Homo sapiens: one gene and its partners. The protein of the gene in region 3 purifies or fractionates together with the protein of the main gene of each other region. This does not show direct contact. Each region holds a gene or a part of one and is shown on either strand. Other genes may lie near its edges. The genes, in order: PSMG2, OXSR1, CEACAM16, GCA, EEA1, USO1 and MPP1.

Region 1 (3,500 bases), on a different chromosome or scaffold from region 3:
AAATGGAATAAACCTCTAATATTAATATGCTTACATTTTTTCACCAATGCTACCCGAACTGAAAATATGTTAACACTCAAGATAAAAGCCCTGCTTCCTTTCTATATAATCATGAAAAGACAGTAACACATCTGAAATATTGTAAGATTATTTCTCTGTAGAATCAGATCTTAACTGTACATATGGTAAAAACAGTAGTAATTTTTGAATCTTAATCCCTAATGTTACTTATTTTCTCATTACACTTTAATAAACAAAAAGGCAAACTACAACATACTAACCTTAATAAAAATGGATCTTAACTGTAGAGCCACCAGCTTTCTTGAAGGCAATGAATACACTATAAAAACAAGAAGAAAATGAAATCATATGACAGTGAAGTTATACAAGTTGAAATTATTATGATAAACAAAAATTGAATTATAATACCTTTTGCATTTAAATGTTTTCAATAATTAAAATACGGAACATATATGACATCTGGTTAAAATAAGACCTTTTAGAAGTACCTTAAAATAAGCCAGTGGGCTTTATTCTATGGAACAGATTCATTTCTGAAAAGTTAACTGTAAGAAAATATAAAAAATTATTTTTCTTTTGACTTTAACTGCAAAACCAGAGAAGTATTCCCCTGAAAATTTCTGGTATTATGACAAATAAAATCATCCTTAAGAAAACTGAACTTTTTGGCTTTTGATATTCTCCCCTCTTTGTCTCCAGAGAACAGCAACACTCATTGGGATTAACAGAAAAAACAGTAAAAGGTAGGAGAATGTTAGCCATGTAATAAAATCCTGAAATAGGTACATGTGTGTTCCTTAGAACTTTTTAAAGGATCTGAAATAACATAAAATGTCATGTGAGTCAATGTGTTTGTATTTTTTACTGGGAAAAGGATCCATAGCTTTCATCAGGTTCTACAAGGGGCACACTCTAGAAATGCTTAAGGCTTCCCTGCCCAACTTCATTTCTAAGAATGAGAAGCAGCTGGGCATGGTGGCTCACGCCTGTAATCCCAGCACCTTGGGAGGCTGAGGCAGGTGGATCACAAGGTCAGGAGATCAAGATCATCCTAGCTAACATGGTGAATGAAACCCCGTCTCTACTAAAAAATAAAAAAATTAGCCAGGCTTGGCGGCGGGCACCTGTAGTCCTAGCTACTCAGGAGGCTGAGGCAGGAGAACGGCGTGAACCCGGGGGGCGGAGCTTGCAGTGAGCAGAGATCGCGCCACTGCACTCCAGCTTGGGCAACAGAACAAGACTCCATCTCAAAAAAAAAAAAAAAAAAAAAGAATGAGAAGCTCCTGAGTCAGGGATAAAATACTCTCTAAGGACACAGGATTACTACTGTGCTAAGGGGTAAGTGTTGGTTACCATAAACAGATTGCAAATAACAGCAAATCCTTTGGTGGATCAGGTCTCTACTGTTACAGGTCTTTCGGAAATTGTCTCCTATGGCTGGCGTGATGTGGTGTGACTGGGGGGTATGCTGAACTCAGCAAATCTAGCAAGCACCAGGTATGTTCAGTCCAAAGGAAGTTTAGGAATTAGGGAAAAGGGTATAAATTTAGGGAAAAGAGACTAAGGCAAAGATTACTCAGCCTCTAACCTATCTGTGACAAACACATGTAGTCCAATTCAACTGACCTAGGTTTGAAAAGAATGTATCTGTAGGGGGTGGACAGGCTAAGCTTTTTAAAATGTAAGCTACCACTTCTTCGGTGATAGCAATACTCTCCTCATCAGCGTATCATACAATTCTTTTTTTTTGAGACAGAGTCTCGCTCTGTCACCCAGGCTGAAGTGCAGTGGTGCGATATCGGCTCACTCCAACTTCTGCCTCCCAGGTTCAAGTGATTCTTGTGTGTCAGCCTCTCAAGTAGCTGGGATTACAGGAGCACACCACCACGCCTGGCTAATTTTTGTTTTTTGTTTGTTTTTTAAGACAGAGTCTTGCTCTATCACCCAGACTGGAGTACAATGGTGTGATCTCGGGTCACTGCAACCTCTACCTCCTGGGTTCAAGCGATTCTCCTGTCTCAGCCTCCTGAGTAGCTGGGATTTCAGATGCACACCGTCACAACGGGTTAATTTTTTGTATTTTAGTAGAGACAGAGTTTCATCATGTTACCCAGGCTGGTCTCGAACTCCTGAGCTCAGGCAATCCACCCGTCTTGGCCTCCCAAAGCGCTAGGATTACTAGCATGGGCCACCGTGCCCGGCCTATGCAATTCTTTTTGTTGTTAGGTTCCTGTTTCCTAGTACTTTTTTCTTCTGATGTGATACATTACGAAAGCAACAACACCTTTTCTGTATTCTGCCCCAAAACATTAACCTTTTATCTAATCAAGCCTTTAGAGCTAACTCCAGTTACAGAAAACACAGGGGCTAGAACAACAAGCCAAGTGACAAGAGGACGTAATCAGACAAATCAGAAGGTGGGACATTGTACAAAACAATACACCTAGTCTTTTCTTCAATAAATCGGTTTGTGATGAAAAAAAAGGGACTGCTCTAGAGTAAAAGAGATTTCAAGGGCACAGCACAACAATCGGATATATGAGGGGTCTTCAAAAAGTTCACAGGAAATGTGTACTTACGAAAACATTTTGCACCAAAATAAACTTGTACTGACTTGCTGTAACACGCCTGAAAAGGATCTGGTTTGAGGCACTAAGAAGGATAAGGCATTAAGTGCCCCTATCACAGCAACATGAATTCTGCTTAAACTGAAGCAAGAACATCAAATTTATGGTGAAGCTTGGGTAGATAAATGGTGAAATCACAGATGCTTTAAAAGGGGCGGGCGTGGTGGCTCACACCTGTAATCCCAGCACTTTGGGAAGCTGAGGCGGGCAGATCATGAGGTCAGCAGATGGAGACCATCCTGGCTAACACAGTGAAACCCCGTCTTACTAAAAATACAAAAAAAGTAGCCGGGCGTGATGGCGGGTGTCTGTAGTCCCAGCTACTTGGGAGGCTGAGGCGGAAGAATGGCGTGAACCCGGGAGGCAGAGCTTGCAGTGAGCCGAGATCGTGCCACCGCACTCCAGACTGGGCGACAGAGCAAGACTCCATCTCAAAAAAAAAAAAAAAAGTTTATGAGGGCTGGGCGTGGTGGCTCATACCTGTAATTCCGGCACTTTGGGAGGCTGAGGCGGGTGAACTGCCTGAGGTCAGGAGTTCAAGACCCACCTGGCCAACATGGTGAAACCCTGTCTCTACTAAAAATACAAAAATTAGGCCAGGCGTGGTGGCTCACGCCTGTAATCCCAGCACTCTGGAAGGCCAAGGTGGTTGGATCACCTGAGGTCAGGAGTTCAACACCAGCCTGACTTGCATGGTGAAACCTCATCTCTACTAAAAATACAAAATATTAGCTGGGCGTGGGGGCGTGGACCTGTAATCCCAACTACTCCAGAGGCTGAGGCAAGAGAATTGCTTGAACCCGGGAGGTGGAGGTTGCAGTGAACCAAAATCGTGGCATTGCACTACAGCCT
Region 2 (3,500 bases), on a different chromosome or scaffold from region 3:
TACATACAAACTTATACTTCTGCATGTATATACTACCTGAAATTTGCTTTTAGCTGTGTAAGTACATAGTTCAAATCAACTTCCAACCTAGACTTGATTATTAAGGGAGTCATTTAATTTTCTCTTTTCTCAGTATCCACCTTTCCACAGTACCGAAGAGTGCTATACATAGTCTGTGCTTAATACATTTCACAATAATTTTCTTAAAGTGTTATTCTTTATGTAGATTTAAAACAGCATGAAGTTGTCAAGACATCCTAGTAACTCAGAATTTTTGAGATGAGACCAGGTATACTAAGTAGGCTTCTGTAAAGGAAAGGTAACCAAATATGTTTTTCACATTTATGGCATAAATGCATTGCTCCTAGTGGCAAGGAGCAATGAGATTCTCCTTACCACATTCTCTTAAATAGCTCTTGCTGCCTCTATCTCCAATTAGGACCTTACAGAAAGATGACTAGGAATTTATATGTGCAAGGGGAATGAGTTAATGGTAATTCAGTGGAACTCTTTTTTAAAATGTTAGTAATAGTTTTAAAAGGCCTGAGTTGCCTCAAGTGATACTTTAATACTAATTTTTTTTCAAATGCATTTATGAGTAGAAAGAGACCTAACTAGAGCAATACAACAGCCATAGTGATTCTGACAAGAAAGCTCTGGAATTTGAATCCAGCTACTAGTGCTAGGGGCGGGGGGGGCGGGGCAGGGAGTTAAAATGAACAGACTGCTACCTATGGCACTTCCTGCTGAGCAATCTGTCAGGACCTCTCTATATGTTCCCACCAAGAACCACCAATTTAGGGTACTTGCTGCAAAACAGAAACAGACTACAAAAACATTTAGAAGTTTCCTTTTAACCTTCTAAAAACAAGGCCTTTATTTGATCTACCACAATCAAAAAGTGCTCCCCTCTTGGGTTAGTTGATCTCAGAGTTTACCTCGTCACAATTATAAGACTGATCTTCAGATAAGCCAGTTAGTGCTGCTCCCCTAAAAACTGTTCCTCAATTACAGGCTACACCTCCTAACCCAAACTAGCTACACTGTAAATACACAAACTCATCACCAATTAGCACAGAAACAACTGAGAGAACATGTGCATCAGTTAGTCACAACACCTGCTAACATGCAGGTCCTCACACTGTTGCTATTATTTCTGGGGAAAAATAATACACCACCAAGCAAACAGAGCTTGATGCTGGAGGACATACAATCCTATCCAGTTACTCTCAGGCACAGACTATTACAGCACATGCAGAATATTCAGAAAACAAAAGAAAACAAAACAAAAAATGTCTACTTACCTTAATCTTAGTACTAGACTGATTGGGATCTTGGTTTCTTGTGAACCTGATCCTGAAGACAAAGCCTAAAAAGCATTGAAAGGTATACAGTCATTGCCTGAAACATTAAGTGGGGAGGTGACTAATGGTCACTGGCAGAGGAATCATTTACTTGGCAGCAATTTTCTTCATCTCCAGCTGAGGTCATACTAATCCCCAGGACATTCCCTGCTGGAGGAGGACATGCACTCCAAGGCAGCAACAAAAGCTGAATGTCAGTTTAAGTCCAACACAATGAGAAAGAAAACTCTCAAGCCCAGATGAAATTTCACATATAGCCACATTTACATTTTATATTTCTGAGACCCCTGTTCCCCTCTACAAGACTGAAAAACACAAAGCTAGGTTTCTCATTTTTAAAAAATCTGCCAGTGCACCATATGGCAGTACAAAAGGTAGACCCTGAACCAGCTGCCCTTCAGAAATCCATCCAACCCATACATAGGTTCCAGTCTTTTTATGGCTAAACTAATCCTCTCTGAAAATTGTACAGCGCTTGCTTATGGGAGGACATGCATTCGATTTAAGTTGTTTATAAAATGAATCTAATTTTTCCATCAATTTTCCTAAGACAACTGTATCTTTTCCCATATGCCAAGCAGAAATGGAAAGCTTGAGGGATGCAAAGTTAAATGAAGTAAGTGCCATGACTAATTGGAAATGCTCAAAGCAGTGATCTCCAAAGGCAGAACACGAGATGATCTACTGGGGTGCAAAAGAAAAAAAAAAAAATCAGACCTTTAATTTATATTTCTTTTCATCTAAAACGTTAGACAAGAAAATGGAACTTCTAATATTTAATAAATGGACGTTGAAAGTCTTACTTTAACCATGTACCATAGGGCCACATGTTGTATGCAGTGTCTGAGGTTTATTGAAGGGAGAGAAGGAGTTACACAGCATGTAGCAGCCCACTACGGGGCCTTCATTCACTTGGCTGCTCTCAATGAAGTATGATTTAATAAAGTTTGTGTGCACCTGGATAAATGATTTACAGATTATAATACCCGGACTTAACAAACCAACCCTCACAAAATTGACAAATAACTTAAAAAGAGTAATAGAGAAAAACCACAGAAAACAAAGAGTATTAATAAAAAGTATAAGCCTGAGTGAACAACAACAACAAAAACAGTACAGCCATCGATTCTCCTAGTCTCTGTTGAACTTCATGAGCTGCATTCTGAAGTTAAATGTAATTATCTAATACAAAGCTGACAAGAAATTAGCCCAAAATTTTTGATGTTTGAAATATTTCCATCATTAACTTATTCTGTTGCTTAAAAACCTGCATGTGATCCTTGTAAAATTCTCTTACCTGTACATGCTTAAAAATGTGAAGACAGAATTTCTAACTTGTTTCAAAATCTACCAAGACATTAACCTGATTACATTAGGTTATATTCCACGTTAATATCTGCTCTTTTCATCTATCCAAAGGAGTGACCATGAAACCATATCCCCGGCTTTACCTGAGCTGTTTTTGCTGGCTCTGCGGTGGGTGGGAGAGAGACTTGAGTTGGCTGTGTAGCAATCTGCCCAGCTGGCTGAGGTAGATGAGCAGAGATCTGTTCTGGAACTTGGAGCAAAGTACCCACAGGATCAGTTGTTGGAAAGAGCTGTAACAAAAACACACACAGTGTTGCTTAAGTTGTGTGGAAAGGGAGGCAGGTCTGCTGACAGCAAGTTCAGCCTTTCAGGGTGATATTTTCAAAGTAGTTTTTGGGTAGTGTACAGGTTTTGTGTCTACTCCGAATATATCTATTCCAAACGGAAGTCAAATATTTCTAGGCTTTTAAACTTTTAACAACTCTGTGAGGTATAATTTATATTTCTCTACATTTACCCACTGTAACTGTACAATTTGGCGATTTTTGTACCATATATAGAATTGTGCAACCATCACCACAATCGTTTTAGAACACTTCCATCACCCCCAAAAAGTCCTCTCATGCCTATAGTTAGTTCCTGCTTCCACACCCAGCCATAGGCAACAACTGATCCTAATTTCTATAAATTTGCTTTTCTGGATATTTCATATAAATGGAATCATATAATATATAGTCTTTTGTGTCTGTCTTCAGTTTGCATTATATTTATCTTTAACAAAATCTATTCCATTCCTTTGCCCAGCAAAACAGCACCTCCAAAATACAG
Region 3 (3,500 bases):
GAAGGAGACGTGGTCTCTGCCTCTGGGAGCTCCCAGTCTGACGGAGGAAACATGGTCTATAACTCTGGGAGCTCTCAGTCTGATGGAGGAGACCTGGATCTTGACTCTGGGAGCTCCTAGTCTGATGGAGGAGGCATAGTTTCTGACTCTAGAAGCTCCCAGTTGATGGGGAGACACGGTTCCCAACATCTGAGAGCTCCCAGTCTGAGGGAGGTGACATGGTCTCCAACACTTGGGAATTCCCAATCCAATGGGGGAGACATTGTTCCTGACTTCTAAGAGCTCCCAGTCTGATGGGGAGACATGGTCCCCAACATCTGGGAACTTCCATTCTGTGAGGAGACACAACTTCCACACCTACAGGCCTCCATCCTAATGGAGCAATCATCCTTATTTCAGTTTGAAAGAGAAACTCCACCATCTGATGATAGAAACTTTGCCCTCACAATAATAGAAAGGAGGAGACATGATCCCCACTGCACAGGATCTCCCAGTCTGAATAGGGAGGCCTGATTCATCCTTATTCTCTGCCTGCAGTCTGATAGGAGAGGTAAACTCCTATAATTAACCCATTACCCCAATATGGACCCTATGTTTTAGGGTCCACCTGTCTGCAGGAAAAAGGATGCTCCACCATCAGACTATGCCTTCTCTTTTAAAACCTTCAGTGTGCTGTACCTCTTATTTGAGAGAGAAGGCATGGGGGTCCCCTTTAGCAACCCTCAGTCTGATGGAGGAGGCCTGTCTACCCACAGTGTAGGTCATTAGTTTGATAGAAGAGGCAGAACCCTATTTGGGGACCCCCAAGTTAGGCGGAGGAGACAAGGCTGCTTCCTTCAGCCTGATGGGGGATGGGTATCCATCTTTGGTCTATGTCCCCCCAGCCTGATGGAGGAAGCAAAGGCTCCTTTTGGGAGCCCTTGTCTAAAAAGGGGCACGCCTTGCCCCTTCCCACACACTCACGGGCCACCTGCAGCTCCACTTCCAGTGTCTCAGTCTTGCCCTGCACTGTGACAGTCTTGAGTGTGTAGCGGCCAGTGTCTGTGAGGTTCAGCTTCTGCACCAACAGCGAGCAGTTGGGGAAGCCCACCTCCCGGCCTGTGTGCGCGGGGCCTGCAATCCAGGTTCCTGACGGCAGCTGGCTGAGCAGCCGGTTGGGCTCGGAGGCAGGCCCGCGGTACCAGGCGTAGACCAGCAGGTCCTTGGGGTAGCCCTGCACGGTCAGTGTTACGTCCTGGCCCTCCGTTGGCTTGGTGGGCACGGGCACGATCATCGTGGCAACTGCTGCAGCTGGGGAGAGAGCGAGCGGGCTGGGTCAGTTTGGTCTGCATCTGGCATGGTGTCCCCTTCCCAACCCTTGCTGGCCTCCCCCCAGCTGGCTGGCACTCCCCATGTAGGGTGCTGGGAAGGAGACTGAGGAAGGAGGTGACTTGTGCGGTGGTGGAGGTGGATTCTGGGTCCCAGTAGTGTCTGCTGGGGTCTGTGTTTCCCCTATCAGACTACAAATTCCCAGACTTTGAGAGGTGTCTCTCCCATCAAACTGGAAGACCCTAGAGGCTTGGGTCATGTCTCCTCCATCAGATTGGAAATTCCCAAAATATAGGGGCCATGTCTCCCCTATCAGAGTGGAAATCCCAGAAAATGGGGACCATGTCTTCCCCATGAGATGGTTGGGACTTGTGTCTGTCAGACCGAGAGACCCCAGAATGTGTAAGCCATAGCTCCTCCATCAGATTGAAAGATTCTTGAGGGTGAGAGCATGTCTCCTCCATCAGATTGAAAATTCCTACAAGGCGGCAGCCCTGTTTCCTCCATCAGATTGAGAAATTCTAAATTGTTGCTGAGTTTTTCCAATCAAGTTGGGGACCCTGGAAGTTAGAGGGAAATGTCTATTCCATCAGACTGGAAATTCCTAGAAAGTGGGGTCCTGTACTCCTCCATCAGATTAGGAGTACCCCAAAGGTGGATACCCCATCAGACTAGGAATGCTCAAAAAACAGGGCCATGTCTCCTGGAGACCAAGTCTCCCCATCAGAAGGAAATTTCTCCCCAAGTGCAGACTGTGTCTCCTCCATCTGACTAGGAGCTCACTGAGGGTGGGTTGTCATATCTCCCTCATTACTGACATGAAGGATGAGGCATTGCCTCTTCTCTTTGAGCAGCTATTCCTTGAATAAAGGAGCCATGTTTCCCTGTCCCAGGATCATCTCTCCAAGGACAGAGGCCTTGTCTCCTCCATCAGATTAGTCTCCCAAGGTGGAGGGAGGGTGGCGTCTCCTTTTCTTCTGTGTCTCTCCCAGCACCTGCCACAGAGTTGCTGACAGTGCTAGAAGCCCTTGGGGGCACTGTATCCACTCCCTGCACATACCTGCATACCTTGGACACCCCCCTTCTTGGACTGCACAGACAGGGCTTGGGGTGGCGCCTGAGGTCATCTGGTCCATCCCCCTGTCTCCTGTCAAGACCAGCTGCCAAAGCCCCAGATGAGTGGAGCGGGAGTCACACTTACCTCTGGGGATGCCATTTCTGCTTTGGGTGAAAATCCACCCCTTGGATGAGACCCAGCCTGTTAGTGGGAGGGAGGGAACGACCATTCCCCACTGTCCCCCGGGGGCTGATGGCCACTTGGGAAGGAACCGAGGTAGAATTAATGAGGCCTTAATGTTCAAAGCCACCATCTCCGGAAGATGAGAAAATGTCGCCTGAGGATCCCAATGGCTCTGAAATGCCAGCTGCCTGCACTGCCCCAGCCCTCAGGTCATTTTAGGACAGAAGCAAGATGACAATGCCTCCCCAGCTGTTTCTCCATTTGCCAGCAATTGGCTGTGATTCTTCAGTTGTGTGTGTGTGTGTGTGTGTGTGTGTGTGTGTGTGTGTGTGTATACCCATCATCTGGGTCAGATAACTGGGTAGTCTAGTTGGCTGCACAGAATTTCAGCTGTCTGTGTGGTGGGGTGGGGGCGGGTAGAGGGTCAAGGCCCTAAACAGCTGGTGACTGAATTTAGAGCAGTGGCACCCACCTGAAGTGATATCTGAGTGATTTTCCACTCTGTCAACCCACAATGGTTTGCCATTTGTTCTCTAGGTGAACAGGACACGGGCTGTCTCTCTTTAGACCCAGATGCAAACAGATCTGCCTGATATGCCACTTTGTCACAGCTCATGAATGAACTGTGAATCTACCATGTTCCAATTCTCTGTTGGGCAAATGGTGGCTTAACCTTCGCAGCCTGATGAGGCCTCCATGGGGACTGGGGGGTGGTCAGGCTGGGGGTGACTCACCAGAGAGCTTGACCACGACTGAGGCAGATCCAGATAGCAGGGTCTTGGTGTTCTTCGCAATACATGTGTACGTCCCCTCCTGGGCGGCTGTCATGCTGCTGATGTTGAGGTGGTCTTGGCCGTTCTTTAGGGCCTGCCCGTTGAAGGTCCACACATACTCGGGCTCTGGGCAGGACCTGGACACGCACCACAGGGTGAGGGACGTGTTGAAGTCAACT
Region 4 (3,500 bases), on a different chromosome or scaffold from region 3:
AACCAAAACAAGCAAAATGAGGAGAAAAAACAATCTGGAAAAAACAAAGGTTATATAGGAAGAAAAAACTTTAAAAATATATTAATAGTCTCAGAGAGATAAGGGACAATATCACATTCATGAAAATAGAACAGAAGCTCTTGGATATTAATGAAAAGCAGAAATGAAAGACTCAATAGAAGGTTTAGGAAATAAAGTTGAGGAAAATTCCCAAAAAGTTCAGCAAAAAAAAATGATAGGAGGAAAAAGATGATAAAAGTAGAAAACCCAGTGAAAACAAAAAGCATTCCAAGAAACAGAAAATATCATTGAAGAAAACGTCCTACATCTAAAGCAAAGGAGTTTCCAGGCTGAGAATACCATCTGAGTTCCCCACACAACACAACTAGGTACTTTACCATCAAATCGCAGAATACTAAAGACAAAGATCTCACAAGTTTCCAGAGAGGAATAACAAATCACATCACATCCAGGCAGGAAAGAGAAAGATAATGCAACAAGGGACGCTAGAAACAATGGAGCAATACCTTTAAAATTCTACTTGAGAATCATTTGTAACCTAGAATTCTATACCTGGCCAATCAATTCTGAAGGTAGAATGAAAGCATTTTTAGATACATAAGCTCTCAAAAATTTATCTCCCATATATTCTTTTGTTTGTTTTTGAGATGATGTCTCACTCTGTCACCAGGCTGGAGTGCAGTGGCCCAATCTCAGCTCACTGGAACCTCTGCCTCCTGGGTTCAAGTAATTCTCCTGCCTCAGTCTCCCGAGTAGCTGGGACTACAGGTGCGTGCCACCACGCCCAGTTAATTTTTGTATTTTTAGTAGAGACGGGGTTTCACCATGGTGGCCAGGGTGCTCTCGATCTCTTAACCTCATGATTCGCCCACCTCAGCCTCCCAAAGTGCTGGGATTGCAGGCATGAGCCACGGCGCCTGGCCGTATTTTTTTTTTATATTAAGAAGCTGCTTAACTATACATTTCACTAAAATAAGATAATGAATTTTTTAAAAGAGGACAACAAGAGATGGAGTAAAAAGGAGATCTAACTCAAGAGAAACGGGGAAACCAGCTTCAGAATGATGGTGAAAGAATCCCAGTATGACAGCTACACATAAAAAACTGCATATCCCAGAGTTCTAGGATAATACCTGACAACTAGTGATTTCAAGAAAAGCAAAACATTATATAAAAAGGAAAAGTAATCATACATTATCATAAGATACAGCTATAAGCAGCATTCAGATAGTAAAAATAAGGTAAAGACTAACATACCTAACAAAAGTTACTATATATTATAACTACATTGGAAGGACAGGAGGATGGGAAATGTTCCTCTGTGGAGTGCAGAGACAGGGGAGAGTTTAAGGTTAAAATAAAGTGAAATCCTCATCTTTCATAGCAGGATATCAATAGATAATCATAAAATCCAAAAATCAATCGTGAAAAAAATATTCTATCTTGAAATCTGGAAGCAAATTTCAAAAGAATCAGATTTTTAAAAGTCAAAAGAAGTGTCCTCTATGAGCAGTTAATGTTAAGGAGACAGGAATACACAATGAACAGTTATTTTCATAACGAGTTTTACAGTTATTTGACTCCTTAAACTATGTGCATGTATAACTGTGATAATTTTTTAAACATTTTAATTACAGGGACAAAAAAAGTAAGAAAATAAACTTCCTATTATAATTTCAACAAAAGGGGAAAAAAGATCTCACGAGAGTAAGTTCCATTAATTCCAGACTGTGTCAAACATCTCTGAAGTTCTTCAGCATCCACTTCACCATCCTGTTTAAAAATAATTATGACCTAATTTAATGTGCAGTTGTATAAAAGCATATTAAAATGTCAATTGACTGTTCTAGGCCAATCAAGACATATGCATTCTTTGAAACATTACTCTATAATTAACTACAAAATTCTAGAGATAATTACTGACAACAAAGGCATATTACAAAATATCATACCACAGAAATAATTTCTTCCACTTCTGAAGAATAGCACAATTACCCTGTTCTATAATGGTTCAAGACAATCTCATAAGAGTCATTGTACTTCTATTTTAAACAGTTAGAAAAACAGTTAAACAGTTAGAAAAATGCCTAAAATGTGTTCAGAAAAGTCTCGAAAACATCCCCACTCATGCTGTTTTGGGAGGAGATTATTTATAAATAATACTGAAGCTTTAACTGGAAGGGGAAAATATATTTTCCCCCACCATTACCCCTAGCAAAATTCTAGAGTCCCCCTGTATCTTGCTGCTATTCTTCTGATTACTGCCCAAACAAGTCTTGCCTGAACTTACTACAGAAAATAAAGTTTTAAAATGCAAACAAGAAATCACAATGGAAATGAAATAGGTTGAGTATTCTCATTATGATTTAGTACCTCATCCTGTTTTTGACAAAAATAAGTAATTCCTTTGGAACCATCACAAACATTGGCACAAATGCAAAATGTAGCTATGATGAAGGATCAAGGAGGCAAATTTAAAACCTACTCTTCATAAGAGATCCAAGAAACAACAAAACAAAAAACTTTTCTAAACTACTTCTAAGAAATATTATTAACACTCACATTCTAATGGATTTTTGGCAAAAGAACCCCTTACAAAACTGCAGCTGTTCTAATAGAAATTACAAAATACTAAGCAGCATTCTTCCCTTAACTGAATTAGGTAGCATTAGCGGTAGAAAGCTGAATGTCCTAATTAAATTACAAGAGCATCAGGTAGAGAATTAACAAAAATCAATTGCCCTTCGTTAGGCAGCAAGATTTTAAAATGATATCCAACTTCAAGTCCTATTTGTTCAGTTACTCAATTTGAGTCTCCACTTACTTATCTATAATACAAAGGTAGCTGTGTCATGCCCACATCACAGTTGCTGTGTGGAAAAGTAGAAGCAGTGTGCATACAAAAGTTAAAGTTGTTGGTATTACTGTGATGCATGTGTCTGTATGTATGAAGACAGAAACCAGAATTTCCCCAAATTAATTGATGATTTAATCCTTACTGTTTAGAATACTTCATCCTATAAATAAGAACACTGCAGAAACCTTTAATCAGGTGTTTTTCATAGAGCATTATTAATTATGAGGCCCATCAAAAAAGGATATGGCTGTAGATGTAAGTTCAGTAGTTGGGTTCCAGGAGCAGTATACCTAAGTCAGATGTTGCACCTGATCCCTCAAAGCTAGGTAGAACTCAATATATGAAAAAATACAGTCTAAATATTTAGACTAAAAATTGAAAATGGGATAGTTAATTCATCCATACGAAACATTTATCAAATGTTTATATATTCCTAATATCTACCTGTCAAGTAGGGAAAATATGACCAGAACCCTGTCTTTATGGAGTTTATTTATTCAAAAGCACAAGACTGGGAAATTTAAGGAAAGTATCAAATAGTTCAAACATAGCGAATTTATTGCTGACAATTAAAATGCTGAAATAGTTCAGCAGTCAAAAAGAGTTTCCAAATATATGTCCA
Region 5 (3,500 bases), on a different chromosome or scaffold from region 3:
TACAAAAAAAAAATTAGCTGGGAGTGGTGGCGGGCACCTGTAATCCCAGCTACTCAGGAGGCTGAGGCAGGAGAATTGCTTGAACCCGGGAGGCAGAGGTTGCAGTGAGCTGAGATTGCACCATTACACTTCAGCCTGGCCAACAAGAGCAAAACTCCACCTCAAAAATAAAATAAAATAAAATAAAATAAAATAAAATAAAGATTACCTGGGAGAAATATTTTTGGAGGGTTTTTCCTTATTACAGATTTGATAACTTTAAAATTCTCTGGCCGGGCGCGGTGGCTCACGCCTGTAATCCCAGCACTTTGGGAGGCTGAGGCAGGCAGATCACGAGGTCAGGAGATCGAGACCATCCTGGCTAACACAGTGAAACCCTGTCTCTACTAAAAATACAAAAAAATTAGCCAGGCACGGTGGTGGGCGCCTGTAGTCCCAGCTACTCGGGAGGCTGAGGCAGGAGAATGGCGTGAACCCGGGAGGCGGAGCTTGTAGTGAGCCGAGATTGCGCCACTGCACTCCAGCCTGGGCGACAGAGCGAGACTCCGTCTCAAAACAAAAAAAAAAATTTTCTGTGGCTCCTTACTGTCTACAGTATAAGGTCCAAAACCCTTCAAGCTACCTGTTGCAAACATCCCATCCACATCCAGAAATACGCACAATCCCCCTACTCTATACTAAACTATATCATGCTCTTGGATTTGTCTGGTTCCTATCTCTAAAATGCCCTTCTGTCCTTTTTCCCTCCTTGCCTGAGTCACTGCCATCCTCTGCAAAGACTTCCACAATCTCTATTCCTTGCCCTCCCCTACCACACCCCCTCTCCACCACATAGTTACTTTTTCTTTTGTGCTTACAAACTTTTCCTCTGTGTATCTATTACACTTATCACATTGTTTTGTAATTATTTATCTGTCTCCTCCATTAAAACTCAGCAGGTTTTTTTTTTACTCTCAAGAGTGTTTTGCACAGTAGTTAGCACAAAATAAATATTCGGTAGTACATAAAATGAATGTACCTATGTTCTAAGTCCTCATCTACCTCATCTACAAAAAAAAAAAAAAAAAATGGAGATTAGAAAAATAAAGGAAGTGATAAGAAAAGTGTTCCTTAAAGAAATTTGGAGTTTATAATTATAATAACACTGAAACACCATTTTAAAAAAATCAGCCAGGTGTGGTAGTTCACACCTATAATCCCAGCTATTCCTGAGGCTGAGGCAGGAGGGCCACTTGAGCCCAGGAGGCAGGGGCTGCAGTGAACGTGACGGTGTCACTGTGTCACTGCACTCCATCCTGGCTGACAGAGCAAGACCCTGTTTCAAAAAAGAAAAAAATAAGAAAAGAAAGTTAAACACCAAAAACAACAACAAAACACCAACATTAGCAGCAGCTAACATTTAAGACTTTTTTTTTTTTTTTTTTTTTTTGGGATGGAGTTTTGCTTGTTGCCCAGGCTGGAGAGTGCAATGGCACAATCTCGGCTCACTGCAATCTCAGCCTCCCAGGTTCAAGCAGTTCCCCTGCCTCAGCTTCCCTAATAGCTGGGATTACAGGTGCCCGCCACCACGCCCAGCTAATTTTTTCTATTTTTAGTAGAGACGGGGTTTCACTATGTTGGCCAGGCTGGTCTCAAACTCCTGACCTCAGGTGATCCACCCACCTCAGCCTCCCAAAGTGCTGGGATTACAGGCATGAGCCACCGCGCCTGGCTGAGACTTTTATACATATTAGTTATCTAGTTCTCAACTTTATAAGGAGGCTAGTATTATTACAACTATTTTACTGAGACACAGAGAAGTAACTTCTCCAAAACTACACAGATAGTAAATGAAACAGGATACAAACCCAGGTAGTCTGGCATCAGAGTTCATGTTCTTAACTACTAAATTACATTATTTCTTTAGCTCAAGCAAAAGGCCACTGGAATTAGAGAAGAAAATTGAGTACTAGCCCTGGTTCTTTTCATTTCTTAACGTCTTCTTTATTCTTAGTTCTAGTCCTGGTTCTTTAATATCTTAATCTCTTCTTTATTCCTAACATGCTAAAAAAAAAAAAAAAAAAAAAAAAAACTACTCAAAAAGAAAATCATTCCATTAGCTGTCACTTTTTAAAATTCACTTCAATAAATTAGCAATACTTTCATCAAACTTAGATGGGCAACTAATCTGGGAAGCCTTCCCAACATCTAAAACCAGGGCCCTCTTGCTGGGTGTTCTTGGGGCATCCTGAGTTTGTCCTTCCTAGAACTCATTCAAGAGTATAGTTGTATGAATCTCTGAACAATTCCTCTCTCTTCCACTGGACGCTAAACTCCACAAAAAATTCATGACTACTTTACCCATCATTGTCTGCACAGCACACAGTTGGCCCACAAAAGATGTCTCAAAAAAAAAAAAAAAAACACTAATCACAGTTTTTTTGTTTTGTTTTGTTTTGTTTTTAACACAGGGTCTCACTCTGTTGCTGGAGTGCAGTGGCACGATCTTGGCTCACTGCAACCTCTGCCTCCCAGGTTCAAGCAATTCTCCCACCTCAGTCTCCCAAGTAGTTGGGACTACAGGCGTGCACCACGATGCCCGGCTAATTTTTGTATTTTTTGGTAGTGACGGGGTTTCACCACATTGACCAAGCTGGTCTCGAACTCCTGATCTCAGTGATCTGCACGCCTCGGCTTCCCAAAGTGATGGAATTACAGGCATGAGCCACTAAGCCAGCCCACAGTAAGTTATAATACTTAAGAAAGAAATGGCAACAAGGTTTACAAGCTGCCTAAGGTACTAAACGTTGATTAAATTTCTAACCATCAAGTACTTTAAATTCATGTTTTTCTTTGAAGGACTATTAAGTAAAATATTCAATACATACATATTGGAGCTACTTCACTTTGGTTTTGTTTTGAGGTTTTTTTGTTTTTGTTTTCCAGCTTCTTTCAAGCCTCAGAGAAACACCTTAGTAAGCTAATGAAAAAGGAGGAGCAGGAGGAGGGACAAAAGCAGGAGAACCAGAAACCAAATTTCCGTAAAGTATCCTGAGACTTATTGATGATGTTCAAACACTTTGAGTTCTAATTGATGGTAAGCAGTTTGTCTGTTTCTTCTTTTAAAAAATGCTATTTAAAGGAAACTATTCAGAAGAAAATAAGAATAGTTAAAATGAAAAGTTCATCTAAAAACAAAATGCTAAAGGAATGCCACATAATTTTTTTTTTTTTTTTAGACGGAGTTCCGGTCTTGTTGCTCAGGCTGGAGTGCAATGGAGCAATCTCAGCTCACTGCAATCTCCACCTCCCGGGTTCAAGTGATTCTCCTACCTCAGCCTCCTGAGTCGCTGGGATTATAGGCATGCACCACCACTCCCGGCTAATTTTGTATTTTTAGTAGAGTCAGGGTTTCTCCATGTTGGTCAGGCTGGTCTCGAACTCCCGACCTCAGGTGATCCGCCCGTCTCGGCCTCCCAAAGTGCTGGGATTACAGGAATGAGCCACTGCACCCAGCCAAG
Region 6 (3,500 bases), on a different chromosome or scaffold from region 3:
ATTTAATGTGCCTATGTTCCACGGCTTATGGAAAGCCTACATGTGGCTTGTGTATTAGCTAAATTTGTACTCCTTGTTTTGTTATTGTGATTAGATGTTGATCTTAAAAAGAAAACACAGGCCGGGTGTGGTGGCTCACGCCTGTAATCCCAGCACTTTGGGGGGGGCCAATGCGGGCAGATCACCTGAGGTCAGGAGTTTGAGACCAGCCTGGCCAACATGGCGAATCCTCGTCTCTACTAAAAGTACAAAAATTAGCTGAGCATGTTGGCAGGTGCCTGAAATCCCAGCTACTCAGGAGGCTGAGGCAGGAGAATCGCTTGAATCTGGGAGGTGGAGGCTGCAGTGAGCTGAGATCATGCCACTGCACTCCATCCAGCCTGGAACACAAAATTGAGACTCTCTCTCAAAAAAAAAAAGAAAAAGAAAGAAAGAAAACAAAAATATTTTCAATAAATTTTACTTTTATAGTACATGCATATGTATGCTTATCTTACATATTATCATTATTTGAAATAGTATTTTAAAAGCTTCATTTGTGGCTGGGTGCGGCAGCTCACACCTGTAATTCCAGCATTCCAGCACTTTGGGAGGCCAAGGCAGGTGGATCACGAGGTCAAGAGATGGAGACCATCCTGGCCAACGTGGTGAAACCCTGTCTGTACTAAAAATACAAAAATTAGCTGGGTGTGGTGGTGCACGCCTGTAGTCCCAGCTACTCAGTAGGTTGAGGCGGGAGAATTGCTTGAACCTGGGAGGCAGAGGTTGTGGTGAGCCGAGATCGCGCCACTGTACTCCAGTCTGGTGACAGAGCGAAACTCCATCTCAAAAAAACAAAACAAAACAAAAAAACCCAAAACAAAAAAAATTTTCATTTGTGCCATCTTAAATCATCAATATAGGAGTGAAAATGTTGTGAGATAAAATTACACATCATTAGCTTTCTTCATAAATCTAAGAATTTGAAAGATATATAAAATTTCCTAGAGTTCATTTCATATCATATGCAGTAAATAAAAGTTGCACCAAAAACAAACCTTTAACTCTTTGGTCTCTTGTAATAATGCTGACAGTCTTCCTTCTACATCAGTAGTTTTGGTGGCTATTATAGTCTCGGTCTCTCCTTGTACCTCAACTGATTTTGCCTGAAATTAGAAATTGGAAAAAAAGATGTCTCTTAAACATTACAATCAATATGAACTCCCAAAGGGTTATTTAATTTTTTTGCCATTTTGATATTTTACTTTCACTAACAGAAAATATAATTCCTTATGTATTTATGTGCAACAAAGTGCTCTCCACTGTCAGATGAGCTGTTCCCACATGGAAGAGCATCAAATCTCATAAGAGTACGAGGAAGGCTGGGCTAAGGTGCCTCAAGGTAGGTAAGCCCAGAAAAGTAATCAGCAAGGCAGCTCTAATGTAACTGTAACCCAGCATTTAATAAACACAGAATATTTTTCAAAGCCTTTCCTTCATAAATTTCCTATAAGTCCATACTACCACCCTAGATAGGTAGATAAATTGAGCCAAATATCATTATTAGTGAAATGCAAATCTTTTCTCAAGTGCTAGAGGAGACACTCCTGAATAACAGTTTTTCAGTCTTTCCTTGTCTTTTTTCTAAAATACTAGGAAGTCGGGTAGTGACACAACAAATATCTAAAAATGTGGAAGTAGCTTTGGAACTGTGTAATGAGTAGAGGCTGTAAGAGAGGTGCATGGTAGACAAAGCCTGCATTACCTTGATGAGACTGTTGCTAGAGATATGGACATTAAGTGATTCTGGTGAGAGCTCAGAAAGAAAAGAGCGGAGTTGGAAAGAAGCTTCATGGTCATAGTGAGAAGAAGAATGCTGGCAGAAATATGAATGTTAAAGGTGCTTTTGGTGAGGTCTCAGATGAAAACTAGGAACATGTTACTGGGAATCGGAGGAAAGGCAATCCTTGTTATAAAGTGGCAAATAACTTGGCCAAATAGTGTTGCAGTGTTTTGTGGACAGCAGAACTTGTAAATAATGAATTTGGATATTTTACTGAGGTTTCTAAGCAAAGTGTTGGAGTGCAGCCTGGTTTCTCCTTGTTGCTTAAAGTTAAATGTGAGAGAAGAGAGATAAATTGAAGAAGAAATTGCTAAGCAAAAAAGAATCAGAATTAGAAGATTTGGAAAATTCTCAGTCTACCTATATTGCAAAAGTATGAGAAGGAATGTTCTGGAGAAAACAACAACGGTTTCTGAATATTTTATGACAGCAGAAAAACTGCCAGCTTGGACTGAAGGGACAGAAATAGAATGTAATACCAGCAAAATAAACTATTAAGTAACTGAATAAACTAATCTGGTGAGACTGACTATAAAACGACTGTCACCATGAACATGAAGCCTATGTTACTAGAATACCGGCTAGTAAGTAATCTAAAGAGAAGGTGCTATCTGATGAATTTGTTTCTTTTTAATTGTGGCTAAGAAATAATACATCAACCTTGTCTTTATTACCTTCCAGAGAAAAAAGAGAAAATACTTACAAACGCTTCTGTTTTCTGTAACAGTTCCTGCTTTTCTGTCTGTAGTTTGGTGATCTCCACAGATTGTGAGTTTAACTGAGACTTTAAAGTTGCCAGTTCCTAAGAGACAAAAATAGTTGAGTCATAACATTAAATGGTATTAAATTCATCAAGGAAATATTTACAGGGAGACATTTAAAAAAATGATTTACAACCTCCTACTTTTAAAATCTAACTCTAAAGAACTATTCTTGAATTTTGGGTTCAAGATGGAAAATTCAACACATTCATTTACCTCTGCTCCCTCCTGAAATCCCATGCAAAAAAAAAAAATCATAAAAGACAGGAAGGGAGGGGAGAAGGAAGAAAGAAAGGAAGGATGGGAGGGAGAGAGGAAGAAACCTACAAAAACAAGAACAGTAAGAGAAGAGAGCAATATAATTGGGGAATTTTGAGAAAGCAAGTAACAGTGATAACTAAATCAGCACACCTGAGAAAGCTGAAAGCTAGGATGACCACTGAGAAAGTTAAGATAGTACCTGACTTACAATGAATGCATTAACTACCAGAAAGGTTAGGAACTGGTATCATTAGATACCACTGGAAGTACAGATAAAAATGAGGTTAAAAACTGCAGGCCTGGTTAAAAGACTATTTAAGAAATAGATCATCAGATCCCTGTCTCAATCTTAGGCATCAGGCAACCGTTCCTCCTTTCCTGGATGAAGACTTGAGGTTTATTATGTGGCTGGGCAAAACAGGACATCTTTAGACTAGGGACCACCAAACACAGATGAAAGCAGTAGTACTATAATGAAAACCAGGGTATTAATTGAAAGTTTTTATTAATGTTGAATTTCCAAACTTCTCACCTTCTCCTCCCCCAAAAAAAGTACAGGAAAAGAAAGGCAATTATAACAATGGCTCTCAGCAGGAGTGATTTCTCCCCATATCCCCCCATCCCCGAGGACATTTGGTAATGTCTGGAGACACTGA
Region 7 (3,500 bases), on a different chromosome or scaffold from region 3:
GCCAGTTTATGGATTTTTAAGCAAATATGAATATAATCATTCTTTCACTGTTTATGATGAAGCTAGTATACCCTTCATCACATTATTATTATTTTTTGCTTAACAATAAATCTTCAAGATCACCCTCAGAACCTCCTTTTCCTACCTACATGGTGTATCCCGGGTATCATAAGTCAATTTTTTAAATATAAGCCTATCTTAGACAATTTTGTTATAACAGCAATGCCATATGACTTGGTGTCATGTGAGTTTTTTGAAGTTCTAGTTGCTAGAGAAGGCAGTTTCTCTTTCTCAGTACTTCCCTCATTTGAGGTCACCTGATAGCGAATACTACTTCAAACCTCACCATGTTTTTTGTTTGTTTGTTTGTTTGTTTGTTTTTCTGAGACAGGGTCTTCCTCTGTTGCCCAGGTTGGAGTGTAGTGGTGTGATCATGGCTCACTGCTGCCTCCAACTCCTGAGCTCAAGCAATCCCCCTGCCTCAGCCTCCTGAGTAGCTGGGACCACAGGCTTGCACCACCACACTCAGCTAATTTTAAAATTTCTTACAGAGGCAGGAGTTTCACCATGTTGCCCAGGCTGGTCTCAAACTCCTGGGCTTAAGCGATCTCCCCACCTTGGCCTCCCAAAGTGCTGGGATTACAGGTGTTAGCCACTGCACCTGGCCCAAACCTCACCATCTTATCAAAGTTTCTACTTAGAAATCAGAGTCCCTTAGAAATGATGTAAGCCTCTACTCCAGACTTCCTTCTCTCTCATCTTCTAGTCCTTTTCTAGGCCTTGGGCAGGCCAGTGGACACTGCTCAGGCATACCATCTATTCCCATCTAGGGACCCTTCTCCTTCCCCACACAGTGAATGGCACACTCCTCACAGTTCTGCCTATTGGGAAGATCTTCCCTCCCTACTGTCTTTGAGGGTCACCTCTGGGTGTGACTGGAATGCAGCTATCCCCTATTTTCAGCAGACCCTTCCATAAGCCCACTTCAGGCCTATTCCTCCTCCTCGTCCTCCTCCTCCTCCTCCAGGTGGCTATATCATTTTTGATTTAATATTTTATCTGGGGTGGGCAGGGAGCATTTTCAGAGGTTTCCATAGTTTTTCCCCATTGTGATTGCTCTTACCCAGATCAGTAAGATGAGGAAAGAACAGCAAAGCAAACTGAGAAGGAGCATTTTAAGGAGAAGAGAGTGATCACCTGTGAGACTGATCCACAGGTGATCTACCATGGAGTGGTGTAGCAGTAGCCATTCATTGCCATTGATGTAGGGTATCCACTTGGATATGCTTCAGTTTATCCATTCTACTGTTGATGGACTTTTGGGCTATTTTCAGGTTTGGGCTTTTAAGAGTAGTGTTGTTCTGGAAAGGGCACACCACTACTTTCCTGGAATTCCTGCCAAAAATGCAAAATCCCAGTCTAATCTTGAAAAAACATCAGATGATAACCCCAAACTGAGAGACATCTACAAAATAACAGGTGTGTACTCTTCAAGAATGTCAAGGTCATGAAAGAAGAAAAAGAAAGGCTGAGGAAATTTTCCAAATTAAGGAAGAGTAAGGAAATGTGAAATGCATGATTGGATTCTGGTCTTAGATTGGATTCTGGGACCAAAAAGTCCTAGGTTGGATTCTGGACTGGGGAAGAAATATATAGCTATAAAGGACATTCTTGAAAGGGTTGGCAGATGACAATATTGTGTCAATGTTAAATTTTCAGTTTTGAAAATGCTCGTTCCTAACATATAGAGACATCTATGGGTAAAGGAGAATGAAGTCTTCAGATTACTCTCAAATGGTTCAAAAATTAAATTTTATAATATTTTTTAAAGAGTACTGGCTGCTCTTGGAATGGCGCCAAAAAGATGAAAGAATTTTATAGTGACACCCATATAGCCACACCTCCTAGATTCTACAGTTAACATGTTGCTGTGTTTGCTTTATCACATTTCTATCCAAAAACTGCCCATCTATCCACCTTCTTTTTCCTGGTATTTCAAAATAAGTTTCAGATATCAGAGCACTTTACCCCTGAAAGCTTCAGCATGCATATCATTGGCTCAAGTTCAGGATTTGTTTATGGTTCTTTTCATCCTGTTATTAAATTGTAAGAGTTCTTTATATGTTCTGGATACAAATCCTTTGTCAGATGTAAATATTGCAAATGTTTATTCTCAGGCTGTGTCATACCTGTCTAGTTTCTTATGTAAGATGTTTGAATTTGATGAAGTCAGTTGTTTGCTTGTATGATGATTGCTCCGTGTCTCGTCTACTAAATCTATGCTTATCTCAGTGGAGTTTTTTGATGAATAGACTTCTTACTTTTAAAGTGTTTGTCTTTTTAGTTTTCATTTTATACTCGGGACCTTTTATGACATTTATCGTGCAGACCATTTTTCCCCGCTGCACTGCAGTGTCACCTGACTATAAATGTGTGGCTCTGTTTTTGCACTCTCTGTTCCATTACATGGGTCGTTTGTCTTTCTTCTTACCACAGTGCCTTAAATTACTTTAGATTTATAATAAAGAGGCCTTGCTGCCTGGTAGAGTAACTCATTTAGCTTTGCTGTCTTTGAGATCAGGGGAAGAAGTCACAGTGGCAATGTATTATTGTTATCACCGCGGTTCGGGGCCCAGTCCTAAGTGCCTAATTCTACAGGTAGAAGTTCTTTGTAGCCTAAGGGGTGATTCATGAGAAACTGATGCTAACCTGAATTACCTTTATTGCTGTGTGACCGAGAGCATCAGGTTGTTCAAGGAAATACAAAGGAGAAGAGAACATGCCAGAAACCCTTGGAGCCTGAGGTGCCGCAGGATTCAGAATCTTTCTAATTTTGTTATATATTATGTAATACCCCAAGCAGGATCCAGGAGAGCACCATGTAAATCAAGGCACATTAATATTTCTGCAGCAACCTAGATAAACATGTCTATTTTATTTATTTTTAGAGACAGGGTCTCACTCTGTTGCCCTGGGACTGTAGCTGGGACTACAGGTGCACACCACCACACTTGGCTGACATGTCTATTAAGTTGGAGAAATAAAGCTTACAAACAGCTTCATGTCAATTCAAATAAGAATGAGGCCAAACTTATGAAATAAGTTTTCAGAGCCTCTTGAATGTTAGAATTGCAGATTGTGGACTGGCTGTGGGCCTTGCTCCTGATTTCATACGTTGCTTTGTTGTTTTGGCTTGGCAGGCTGTATCGCATCCATTGAATACTGTGACCGAGGACATGTACACCAACGGGTCTCCTGCCCCAGGTAGCCCTGCCCAGGTCAAGGGACAGGAGGTGCGGAAAGTGCGACTCATACAGTTTGAGAAGGTCACAGAAGAGCCCATGGTAATCCCCCGTCATATTGTCGCCCACCAGTTACTCTCTGCCCCATGAGTCACTGGGCCAGAAGAGTCAATGCAAGAGGCTGCTCATGGAGTTAGGGAATTGGCCAACCCCAAAATTGTCTTTTCATTCTTATCTCAAATTCCTCCTCAAAGCAGG

Evidence for each region.
Region 1: the proteins of CEACAM16 (region 3) and PSMG2 purify together in Homo sapiens (affinity purification with mass spectrometry; one large-scale study listed by BioGRID and IntAct). This does not show direct contact.
Region 2: the proteins of CEACAM16 (region 3) and OXSR1 purify together in Homo sapiens (affinity purification with mass spectrometry; one large-scale study listed by BioGRID and IntAct). This does not show direct contact.
Region 4: the proteins of CEACAM16 (region 3) and GCA purify together in Homo sapiens (affinity purification with mass spectrometry; one large-scale study listed by BioGRID and IntAct). This does not show direct contact.
Region 5: the proteins of CEACAM16 (region 3) and EEA1 purify together in Homo sapiens (affinity purification with mass spectrometry; one large-scale study listed by BioGRID and IntAct). This does not show direct contact.
Region 6: the proteins of CEACAM16 (region 3) and USO1 purify together in Homo sapiens (affinity purification with mass spectrometry; one large-scale study listed by BioGRID and IntAct). This does not show direct contact.
Region 7: the proteins of CEACAM16 (region 3) and MPP1 purify together in Homo sapiens (affinity purification with mass spectrometry; one large-scale study listed by BioGRID and IntAct). This does not show direct contact.

Annotation. Positions count from the first base shown.
Region 1 is NC_000018.10:12,709,542-12,713,041, reverse strand, and holds part of PSMG2 (proteasome assembly chaperone 2), read right to left. Parts: intron 341-3,500; coding exon 282-340; intron 1-281. UniProt on the Homo sapiens protein: Chaperone protein which promotes assembly of the 20S proteasome as part of a heterodimer with PSMG1.
Region 2 is NC_000003.12:38,245,537-38,249,036, reverse strand, and holds part of OXSR1 (serine/threonine-protein kinase OSR1), read right to left. Parts: intron 2,963-3,500; coding exon 2,816-2,962; intron 1,370-2,815; coding exon 1,305-1,369; intron 1-1,304. UniProt on the Homo sapiens protein: Effector serine/threonine-protein kinase component of the WNK-SPAK/OSR1 kinase cascade, which is involved in various processes, such as ion transport, response to hypertonic stress and blood pressure.
Region 3 is NC_000019.10:44,705,651-44,709,150, reverse strand, and holds part of CEACAM16 (cell adhesion molecule CEACAM16 precursor), read right to left. Parts: coding exon 3,283-3,500; intron 1,291-3,282; coding exon 964-1,290; coding exon of another isoform or gene 809-963; intron 1-808. UniProt on the Homo sapiens protein: Required for proper hearing, plays a role in maintaining the integrity of the tectorial membrane.
Region 4 is NC_000002.12:162,350,632-162,354,131, reverse strand, and holds part of GCA (grancalcin), read right to left. Parts: intron 1,795-3,500; coding exon 1,725-1,794; intron 721-1,724; exon of another isoform or gene 399-720; intron 1-398. UniProt on the Homo sapiens protein: Calcium-binding protein that may play a role in the adhesion of neutrophils to fibronectin. May play a role in the formation of focal adhesions.
Region 5 is NC_000012.12:92,922,796-92,926,295, forward strand, and holds part of EEA1 (early endosome antigen 1), read right to left. Parts: intron 1-3,500. UniProt on the Homo sapiens protein: Binds phospholipid vesicles containing phosphatidylinositol 3-phosphate and participates in endosomal trafficking.
Region 6 is NC_000004.12:75,808,077-75,811,576, reverse strand, and holds part of USO1 (general vesicular transport factor p115), read right to left. Parts: intron 2,625-3,500; coding exon 2,526-2,624; intron 1,146-2,525; coding exon 1,038-1,145; intron 1-1,037. UniProt on the Homo sapiens protein: General vesicular transport factor required for intercisternal transport in the Golgi stack; it is required for transcytotic fusion and/or subsequent binding of the vesicles to the target membrane.
Region 7 is NC_000023.11:154,791,986-154,795,485, reverse strand, and holds part of MPP1 (55 kDa erythrocyte membrane protein), read left to right. Parts: intron 1-3,200; coding exon 3,201-3,344; intron 3,345-3,500. UniProt on the Homo sapiens protein: Essential regulator of neutrophil polarity. Regulates neutrophil polarization by regulating AKT1 phosphorylation through a mechanism that is independent of PIK3CG activity.